Linked DNA regions of Homo sapiens: all the other regions are reported to be linked to region 3. Evidence: microRNA targets listed by miRTarBase, many of them from high-throughput screens and not tested one by one. Region 3 holds a microRNA gene; each other region holds the end of a gene's coding sequence.
The links. The annotated mature microRNA hsa-miR-2114-3p reads CGAGCCUCAAGCAAGGGACUU and lies in region 3 at 1,010-1,030, opposite strand. An mRNA with a match to its seed (bases 2 to 7 or 8) in the 3' UTR can be bound and repressed. Matches are read on the target gene's strand: a 7mer-m8 pairs with bases 2 to 8, a 7mer-A1 pairs with bases 2 to 7 and ends in A, and an 8mer does both.

Region 1: the mRNA of UBOX5 is a reported target of hsa-miR-2114-3p. Seed matches in the 3' UTR shown: 7mer-m8 at 1,762-1,768.
Region 2: the mRNA of KLF13 is a reported target of hsa-miR-2114-3p. Seed matches in the 3' UTR shown: 7mer-m8 at 1,126-1,132.

Annotation. Positions count from the first base shown.
Region 1 is chr20:3,107,265-3,110,264 of GRCh38, reverse strand. It overlaps UBOX5 (U-box domain containing 5), which reads left to right. Exons shown (of 5, transcript NM_014948.4): 5 at 1-2,692. The coding sequence ends at 159. UBOX5-AS1 (UBOX5 antisense RNA 1) reads right to left here. Exons shown (of 7, transcript NR_038395.1): 1 at 2,694-3,000; 2 at 515-790. Among named protein-coding and RNA genes, the nearest start is that of UBOX5-AS1, 1.9 kb to the right of the region's middle.
Region 2 is chr15:31,371,720-31,374,719 of GRCh38, reverse strand. It overlaps KLF13 (KLF transcription factor 13), which reads right to left. Exons shown (of 2, transcript NM_015995.4): 2 at 1-2,710. The coding sequence ends at 2,421. Among named protein-coding and RNA genes, the nearest start is that of KLF13, 46 kb to the right of the region's middle. RefSeq lists an enhancer at 1-890.
Region 3 is chrX:150,225,742-150,229,081 of GRCh38, reverse strand. It overlaps MIR2114 (microRNA 2114), which reads right to left and starts at 1,078; the gene lies at 999-1,078. RefSeq lists enhancers at 2,643-3,228, 3,229-3,340.

The DNA.
Region 1 (3,000 bases), not on the chromosome of region 3:
TTTTCTCCCTACTTCAAAAAGGAGCCGGTGTACCAGCTGCCCTGCGGCCACCTCCTGTGCCGACCCTGCCTGGGTGAGAAGCAACGCTCCCTGCCCATGACGTGCACAGCCTGCCAGCGGCCGGTTGCTAGCCAAGACGTGCTGCGGGTCCACTTCTGAGTGACTGACCTCCACTGGAGGAGACCCATTGCTGGGAGGAGCTGAGGGGGAACAGGAGCAGGGCCACAGCACCCCTGAGGTCTGGCCAGGCCCCAGGCACAGAGCTGCCTGCTCCCTCCCGGGGCTCTTCTTCATCACCTCACGGTATAGCACATTGCTTCTGCGCTGGTGGCAATAGGGCAACAAAGCCATAGGCCAGAGGGCGGGGGGATGTCCCTGCCTCCCTGCCACCCCCCCTGCCTGAGCCCAGGACCCACTGGAGCCAGCCCCACCCTAGGCAGGAAGACCCCTGCTGAGGGCCCCCCCGTGCAGTCCGCATACCCCCCTGTCCAGCAGGGCACTGTGGGTGGCTCACCCTAGATTGTGGCCCAGATCTCAGGAGTCTCTGCCTTCAGGGTCATCCAAAAGTGGACCTTGGGAGCAGTGGGGGTGTCTGTGGAGTGCATGACTCAGCCCCCCGACTCGCAGCCTTAATAAAGCGATGGTTGACGTCTGCTGTGGGTTTCCTCCTGGTGGAGTGCCTGTCTGTGTCACACACTCCTGTCGCCCACCTGCACCCACACAAGTGGAGCTCACAGGGTAGCTGTGTGCAGTCACTGCAGCTTGCCAGGCTGTCATTCCTGTCGATGACCTGAAAGGACACAAACTGGAATTTTCAGGTCTGTCCCCTGCATGGGGACTCAGAACCCAGGTTTGCAGGTGGGCATACGTGGTGGGAGGGTGGAGGGCTCCCTCTGGCCAGTGCCAGCTGTGCTCAGCTGGCTTCAGAAACTGCTCCCTGAGGGGGAGCGCAGCGTTTCCTCATGCAGTTGGTTTCAGGAAAAATACTTGTTTATAGGCTGCATCCTTTTTTCAGCCCAACATTTAGCTTTATGGAGTGCCAAAGGGAAAATATATCCATATCCCTACAACTTGGTACTCTATCAGATTCCAGCCACTAGAAGAACCTCAGTGAGAAAACACACCCGCCTTTCCCTGTTCCCTTCTAAGCACGTTTGGGAAGGAACAGCCTAAAGATGCTTTGTAAAGCTGTATTTTACCCTTGAGCTTAGCCGCGGGTCCCTGTGAACCGGCACATTCCTTTCCTTTAGGCCGTCCAGAGCTCTAGTCCACACCCAATACTTTAGAGATCTGGGTTTGGGGTTAGTTGCTTTTTTTTTTTTTTTTTTAATTGAGACAGGGTTGGTCTCTGTTGCCCAAGCTTGAGGGCAGTGGTGCAATCATAACTCATTGCAGCCTCGAACTCCTGGGCTTAAGGGATCCTTCTACCTCAGCCTCCCAGGTAGCAGGAACTATAGGCATGTGCCACCATGCCCAGCTAATTTTTTTATTTTTTGTAGAGACAAGGTCTTGCTATGTTGTCCAGACTGGTCTCAAACTCCTGGGCTCAAGCGATCCTCCCAAAGTGCTTGGATTGCAGGCATGAGCCACTTCGCCTAGCCAAGCCTGCATTTTTTTGAGTTCCTACATCATTTGTCCACAAAGATGGCTTCAGAGAGGTGGTCACATGCTTTGCTCTGCTTCCTCTTGGCACTGACCTTGATGCAGCCTTCACATGAGATTTGAGGGTCCGCATGGATGGCCTGTGCCGCCCTCGCTGGCGAGGCTCCTGTGTGCCCCTGGCTTTCTGGGTCTGTGCCTCTCCAGAATCTTGTCTTACCCTCCGGTGTGCTTGTGTTCTTAGAAAAGCCCCAGCATGGCCGGGCATGGTGGCTCATGCCTATTATCCCAGCACTTTGGGAGGCCAAGGTGGGTGGATCACTTGAGGTCAAGAGTTCGAGACCAGCCTGGCCAACATGGCAAAACCCCATCTCTACTAAAAATACAAAAATTAGCTGGGCATGGTGGTGTGTGCCTGTAATGCCAGCTACTCAGGAGGCTGAGGCATGAGAATCGCTTGAACCGGGGAGGCAGAGGTTGCAGTGAGCCGAGATCTCACCACTGTACTCCAGCCTGGGCGACGGAGTGAGACTCCCTCTCAAAAAAAGAAAAAAGCCCCAGCATGTAGCAAAAGCATTTCTTGGTGAGTGTGGGGGCTGGTGATTCCCACCTTCACCCTGTCATGGTCTCAGGGAACAGCCTGCTTCCCACCAGCAGCTTGACACCCACAGTGTGCTCTGGCTGCTGGGAGCCCATCTCTCGGAGAAACCCTGTCCACCCAACCCCGAGAGCCCTAGCGTGCAGTCAGCGTCAGCACGGCGCTCCCAGATGAGGGCCGGACTGCCTCCCCTTAAGCAGCTGTGTTGGAGGTACTGCCCAGACCGCTGCAGGTCCCTGGGGATCTGCATTTCTAACAGGCTCCTGCCCCCAAGACTGCTCTGGTGGAAAATCCAGCCTGGGAGCCCCTGGAGTGGCAGGCCCTGTCCTGGGTACAGGTGGAGCCACCCCCAGGAGTTGCGTGTGTTTTTCTTAATTGAAAGACTTCCCCCAAAAGGAAGTGGTCTTTTCACTACCCTTGCCAGAAACATGCTAGGCACCACTGGGCTCTGTTTCTGTCCCCTAGAAAATGGGAATAAAATTTCTTTTGCTGTCACCTGGCTCTGAAGGCAGTTTATTTCTCACTAGAGCCTGGACCCAGGCACAGAACAGCTGTAAACACGCAGAGTTTAAGTCCACGGACGGAGAAGACTCAGGACCTCAGAGCCTTGCTGTGGCCCTGCTGCCCTCCAGAGATCTTCCACCCCCTCCATGACCACAGGGTCTGTGGGCACATGTCTCTTCCCCTTCCTGTGACATTGACTCGGCCCTCTGAACGCAGGTCAGGGCCATGGTACCCCTGCGGTTTGGTGGGGGCAAAGGGGCCCAGGCAGCACCATTCTCCAAATCTCTCCTCCCAAGGTG
Region 2 (3,000 bases), not on the chromosome of region 3:
GGACGTCTGACCCCTCCCTGGAGAGCACTTTGCCAGCCTCCCAGGGACGGGCCACTCCCTCTCCCTGCCTTGGGGAACGGTGGACGGTGAGTGCACCAAAGGACTTTGGAATAAAATTCCTGAACCTGGAATGTGAATTCCTGAGACATAAAATGTATTCAGAGTGTGGCTTTCTCTGCCTCACACGAAAACAACTTTGGGAGGGACCTCACTTTGGAACTGGGCATGAAGATCTTTGCACCACAAGCACCCAGGGCTCTCTTCTGTCAAGGTCCCTACCAAATATTCCACTCTCTCTCCCAGACCCAATGCAAGCAGGGAGGTCAGAGAGCCCCAACACAGCATGGCAGCCAGAGGGACCAGCTCCGCATCCAACCAGAGTGGAGGTGACCCTCTCCCTGCCAGTTCCCACCACAGCAGAAACAATGCCACTGCCCAATTTAGGGTCCATCGGTCTACCTAGAAGTCACCACCACGCTGTCGGCCAATCCCAGCTGACACACAGTGGTAAGAAGCGGGCACCTGACGGCATACTGTGCCTGAGCAGCTGCTGTGGACAGAGCGTACCTGTCCACTCTGGAGCCAGCCAAAACAGTGACCATCAGCTGTGGGCAGTGGCTAGGCCTGGGTCCTGGGTTTGTGCTGCACCCCATAGCATGGCAGGGCTGAGTAGAAGCAGGATGGCCACAACCAAGGCACGCTAGGCCCAGGAAGCCCATCTGTGGCCCTCTGAGGTCCCAGGGCCGTTCCTTTGCATCAAAATAGGTACTCATCAAAACAGGTATCTCTGGCAAGATACCCTGAGTCCACCCCAATCCCCCCACCCCCCCCAACACACGCGTGTGTGCTCACGCGCGCACACACCCACACGCACGCACACACTCTGTCCTGGGCCCTTGTATTTACAGGCCTCAACTCTCAGGAGGAAGGGAAGGTGATACCTGGGCCACAAGCCTGGGTCAACACTCCAGCCATCTGCAGAGGAGTTTGCTGGACCACGGCTTGACTGACCCCCGCCCAGGGCTCGAATCCCAGCCCAGGACCCAGCTCTCTGCTCCTCCTCTCCTGCCAGGAGAAGGCCGGTGATGGGGCACTGGAGCAGCCCCACCAGCTGGGTGTGGCCTGGAGCCTCCAGGCAGGACAAGGAGAAGCAGGAGGAAAAGGGAGGAGGAGTCCAGGGGAAACGGAGAGGCTGGAGGTTTGCTAAGTCTGAGTTGGGGACATGGTGGGTCTGAGAAAAGTGTTGCCCGCAACTTTCTATCTGGCATTCCCTGCGGAGGAAATAGAATGCGCGCTCTCCGACAGCATTTCCTGTAACATCCGCGCCACTCCTGAAAAGGTCCAAGTCACAATGTTCCGGTCTCTTGCTACAGAATGGTCTCTGTGAAGCATGGTGCGCTGCCACATGCACAGCCGCTCACACAGACCCTCTGATGAGGAGGCCCCATGACCTGCCCACTGTTTCCAACAAAAGTGCCCGTGCGGGCAAACTCGGAACTGGATGTGCCACCAGGAATTTCTAACATCTTTTTAGAAGACCAGAATTCCCCATCAGAGGCCCAGGTATAGTAGTGACAGGGTCCTGCATGCCTTCTGCTGGGACACGGAGAAGCGGAGTCCTGGCAGGTGTGACCCCGGCCCCTGCCTCGGAGGTCGGACGGTGCAGTGCTACGCTCAGCCAGGGCTGGCATCTCTGCTTCCAGTGCTCCCTAGCGCCGTAGGAGAGGGCTCCTGAAGGCGGGGTGTGAGGCAGGCAGGGTGCAGAGGGCTGAAGGCCCCCTCCACTATCCCCAAGGTGGAGTGCTCCTCCAGCCAGGGACAGCTTTAAGGCATCCCTCTGCAGGGGCCTGTCTCAGAATCAGCTGCGTTGCAAGCCCAGCCAGGCTCGTTGGGCAGAGGCCAGAGACTGGGTTGGGGGCTGGGCAGGAAGAGGTCAGGCCAGCTGCTTAGGAATCTGCCCTGGAGGCACAAACGTCAGTGAGCACATCTGCTCCCAACAGACCCACAGGCTGGCCAGCCAGCCAGACGCTGAGCTCCACCAGACTGGCTGGCCTGCTCTGTCCCCAGCGTGTTCCCGAACCTAACAGAAAACTCCAGAGTGCAAATCTATGTACAGAGTAAGGCGGCAGGAAGGGGTGTCCTCACTGACCTCGTGAAACGTGTCCATCCCTGAGAAAGGGGGTTCAACAACGCTGAATCTCAACTTTGTGGGTGTATCTATTGTGCAATTTGGTGGGTGGTGTTTTTTGAAATTTTTGTGTTTTTTTTGTTTTTTTAACAAATTTACTTTGACACCTGAGGTGAAAAAAATTGTTTTTTCGTGGACTTTGCATCAAGTTCTCTCTCTTCTTTCTTATTACAAAAGGAAAGGCCAGGGACTCACGAGGGGGTGGGAGCGGCTGCTCATGGCTGTGGCGGGCTCAGGGCGAGCTGGCCGGGCTGATGGTGGGGCTGCTGGCGTCGGAGCGGCTGTAGTCGCTGAGGGAGCCGGTCCGCGAGCCCCCGCCGCGCCGCTGCAGCATTCCCGGGTGGAAGTTGGCGTGGCGGCGCGCGTGCTTGGTCAGGTGGTCGCTGCGCATGAAGCGCTTCTCGCAGATGGGGCAGCTGAACTTCTTCTCGCCCGTGTGTGTGCGGTAGTGCCGCGCCAGCTCGTCGGAGCGCGCGAACTTCTTGTTGCAGTCCTGCCAGCTGCAGGCGAAGGGCCTCTCACCTGTGGGCACAGGGGCAGAGCATCAGTATCCGCACCTGGCCCCGCCTTCACACCCTCTCTGGGGAAGGGCCCGCAACACCCAACACCCTGGTCTCTCAACACCCCTCCCACATGCCCCACCTCCAAGAGCTTCTGTGACAAATCCATCAAGGCAGAGATGAAGGTGGGCCCCTGCCCTCCCGCCCACGCCTGGGATGGAGGCAGAGGACACGGCCTAGGATAAAACAGCATTTCAGGTGCTGAAGCTGCAGGGCCCATGGGTAGGTACAGGTCAGGGCCCCAGGCTCCTG
Region 3 (3,340 bases):
TTATTCTGGTGTTCACTCAACAGCATACAATGTCATCACATTCACTCTCTTACTGGAACCTCCTAGGGCGCCCAGGAAGTCAGCAGGGCAGGAGTCTTCTCCCCTCTGAACAAATGAGGAAAGTAAGGTTCAGAGAGGTGAGGTGACTTTACTTGCCAAAGACCTATTACTGGTATGGTAGGCTAAATAATGGCCCACAAAGATGTCCACATCCTAACCCCTGGAACCTGTGAATATGACTTTATATGGCAAAAGGGACTTTGTGTATGTAATTAAGTTAAGGATCTTGAAGTGAGAAGGTTGTCCTAGATTATCTGGGAAGGCTGTGAATGCAATCACAAGTGTCCTTATAAGAGGAAGGCAGAAGGAGATTTGGCACAGACAGAAGAAAAAGGGATGTGATGACAAGAGCTCCATGTGTATATCAAGGATTGTGAGTGTAAAGCCTTCAGCACAGGGCTTGGCGCAGAGTCATTCTCTGAGTAGCAGTTAAAGCAATCTGTGCTTGTCACCCCTTTGGTGCCTCTGGGACCTCCTCCGCAAGATACCTTAAGAAAGAGATTGAAACGATGTGCTTTGAAGATGGAGGAGGGGGTGATGAGCCAAGGAATACAGGTGGCCAACCTGAAAAAGGCAAAGTAATGGATTCTCCCCTCAGAGCCTCCAAAAGCATCCAGCCCTGTTGACACCTTGATTTTAGGCCAGTGAAACTGATTTGTTTTGGACCTCTGACCTCCAAAAGTATAATAGTAAATTTGCATTGTTTTAAGCCACTATGTTGGTGGTAATTTGTTATAACAGCAATGAGAAACTGATCCATCTGGTGAGTGGCAGAACTGGGACAGAAGCCAGTCATCTCATCACCCAGGCAAAGGCAGACGCCATCATCTGCTTCTTGGCAAAGTTTCCCAGGGCCTGGATAGATGTGGGAGTGGAGGATGGGAGGACTTCAATAGGAGGCAATGATGGTTCGGAAGCAGGAAGCTAGCTGCTGGAAGCCACCAGCTTGAAGTCCCTTGCTTGAGGCTCGTCATGTGATTATCCGACCGCTTCAAGGAAGGGACTAGGAGCATGGAGGCAGAGGCCTGTCTTTGGCCCCAGAAGCTGGGACGTTTGATCCATTGCTGACTGGGTGAGGGTCCTGCTGATTGAGATGGAGAGTCCTTAGAGGCAAGACTGGACCGATGACTTCTTGAGGTGCTTTTCAGCTCTCAGGTTCTGTCAGTCCCTCTTCATGGAATCCTAGGTGCCAAAAGCAGACCCAGGAAGCCTGTGGCCCTGATAACCCAAGGCAACCTCTGTCTCTCTAAATGTTCCTGTGGAACCGAGTAAGCATAATCCCAGAGGGCAGTTTGGGACAGCTCACACCCTTCCAGTGGCGGTGAAAATTGGTCATTCCCCTTGGAGAGAGGAGGCGCTCTTGGCAATTTTCCAGAGCTCTACCCTCCTTCCTTTGTGCCCAAACAGCTGTGGGCAGATCAGGCTGGGGGTAGAAAGGAATGAATTCTATTTTCTTCCCTCCCTGAGGTACTCCATGTGGTCACAGAAGGCTGCACAGGAAATATAACGGTTGACAGACGTGCGGTGTTTTGTGATGTGAAAATTAAAATCACCAGGAAATGTTCACGTTCTCTCTCTCCTTCTCTCCCCCCCTCCCCTATCTTCCTTCCTCTGAGCCTTTCTCTCTCTCTGTTCTCACTCTTCCTCTGTTGCCTTTTTCCCCCCAGTTCATTTTAAGTCCCTCAAACTTCCTACCTCCAAGAACAACTCTCTAGTTGAGGCTTGGACTTTACAACTTTCACAAATCACTTTGAATCCTTAAGGTGCCTACAGACCTCTCAGTTTGAGCAATTATGGGAGGGAGAACAAAGAATCAGGGTGGGCGAGCTTCCAGCCACCACTGCCATAAAGTTAAGTGACAACTGTTCACTCCCAAGCCTCTGAGTCTGGACAGGTTTGAAAAATTTGTTTTAATCTCAAAAATCTATTCCCAATGAGCAATTAGAAGCCATTTCCTTGAGCTCTTACTATATCCCAAACTTCGGTTTAGTTAAATTTTGTGAGGTTCAAATTTTGCACCTTGAGACTCTACTTTTCTCTAAATTTCACAATTTAGGGATAAGGGTCTGTTTGTATTCAGCACTGATTGGAATGAAAACATCATTGAGCTTGCCAAGCTGAGACCTGGAATACCACAGCATGAGGTTCATATGTTCTGAATGAGCAGGTTTCAGAAAGCTGAGCACTTAGATGGTGAGGCGTGTGACTTGTAAGATGTGCTTTCTGTAGGGACACAGGCCATCCCCACCGCTGCACCTTCAGCATCTGTAAATGGTACAAGGGCTAAAGTACTTGCACGCAGGCATTTGGATTTTCCCCTGTGTATTATTATTGGCGTTATCTAAGGCAATGTCCCTATCTTACTTCATAGGTCAAGAGTATCCCCAGGGCCACCCAGCAATGCCTAGGAATGAACTCCTAGAATGAAAAACACTTTGGGAGATTCTTCTATCAACCTTCCCTTGTTCTATAAATGTGGACACTCAGGCCTGAAAGAGGGGACAGGCCCTGCAACTTGAGATGGCTCAGCAGGACTGGGACTCAGGTCTAGCTCGTACTCTCCACCCCAGGCCTAGATACTTGTCCACTGTGACTACCTCCGGGAGCCAGGTGCCAGCCTGGGAGGAGCCATATCTGTTTTGGAGCAATTGCCCCGGGCATAGCAAAGAAGGGGGTTGAGTATGAGATAGTATAAGGATGGCATGTATCCTTTGGTAAACAACAAATCTTGGGGCTGGAAGGCTGGTCAAAAGTCAGTCTGGAGACTGGTTTTCCACAACAGAACGTGCTGCGAAAGAGTTGTGGGCAAAACTCGGTTTTGAAAATTGAATCTTTAACCCCCCTGGGTGCCATCTATTGCAATCTTATGAGAACTACTTTTGTGAAGCAAAGGGTCTTCTTGTAATGCAAATTTCCACTCCCTAATTGGCCCGGTGTGTAACTTCTATGCCTTCAATTGCTGAAGGGGGCCAAGCCCCTTTGACACCGGTTTTTGTTTTGGTTTAGCACAAAGCAGGTAGGAGGTAGGGTCAACTCGCACCTCCCTAATGCTGCCGCTGCTGCCTCCGGGCGGGAGAAGACCCACCTGGGCTCCAGGGCAGAGCTGGGCCAGCTTATCACCTCCCCTTCATCGCCCTGTGGAGGTCTGCTGCAGAGTAGTTAATCGGGAAGCTGGGAGTGCAGGTGGCACTCTGTGCCACCTGGAGCCATCTCCGAGAGAGTGCCCGCATCCTCCAAGGCTGGAGAGGAATACCAATTGCACGGTTACTGGGCCCCCTCA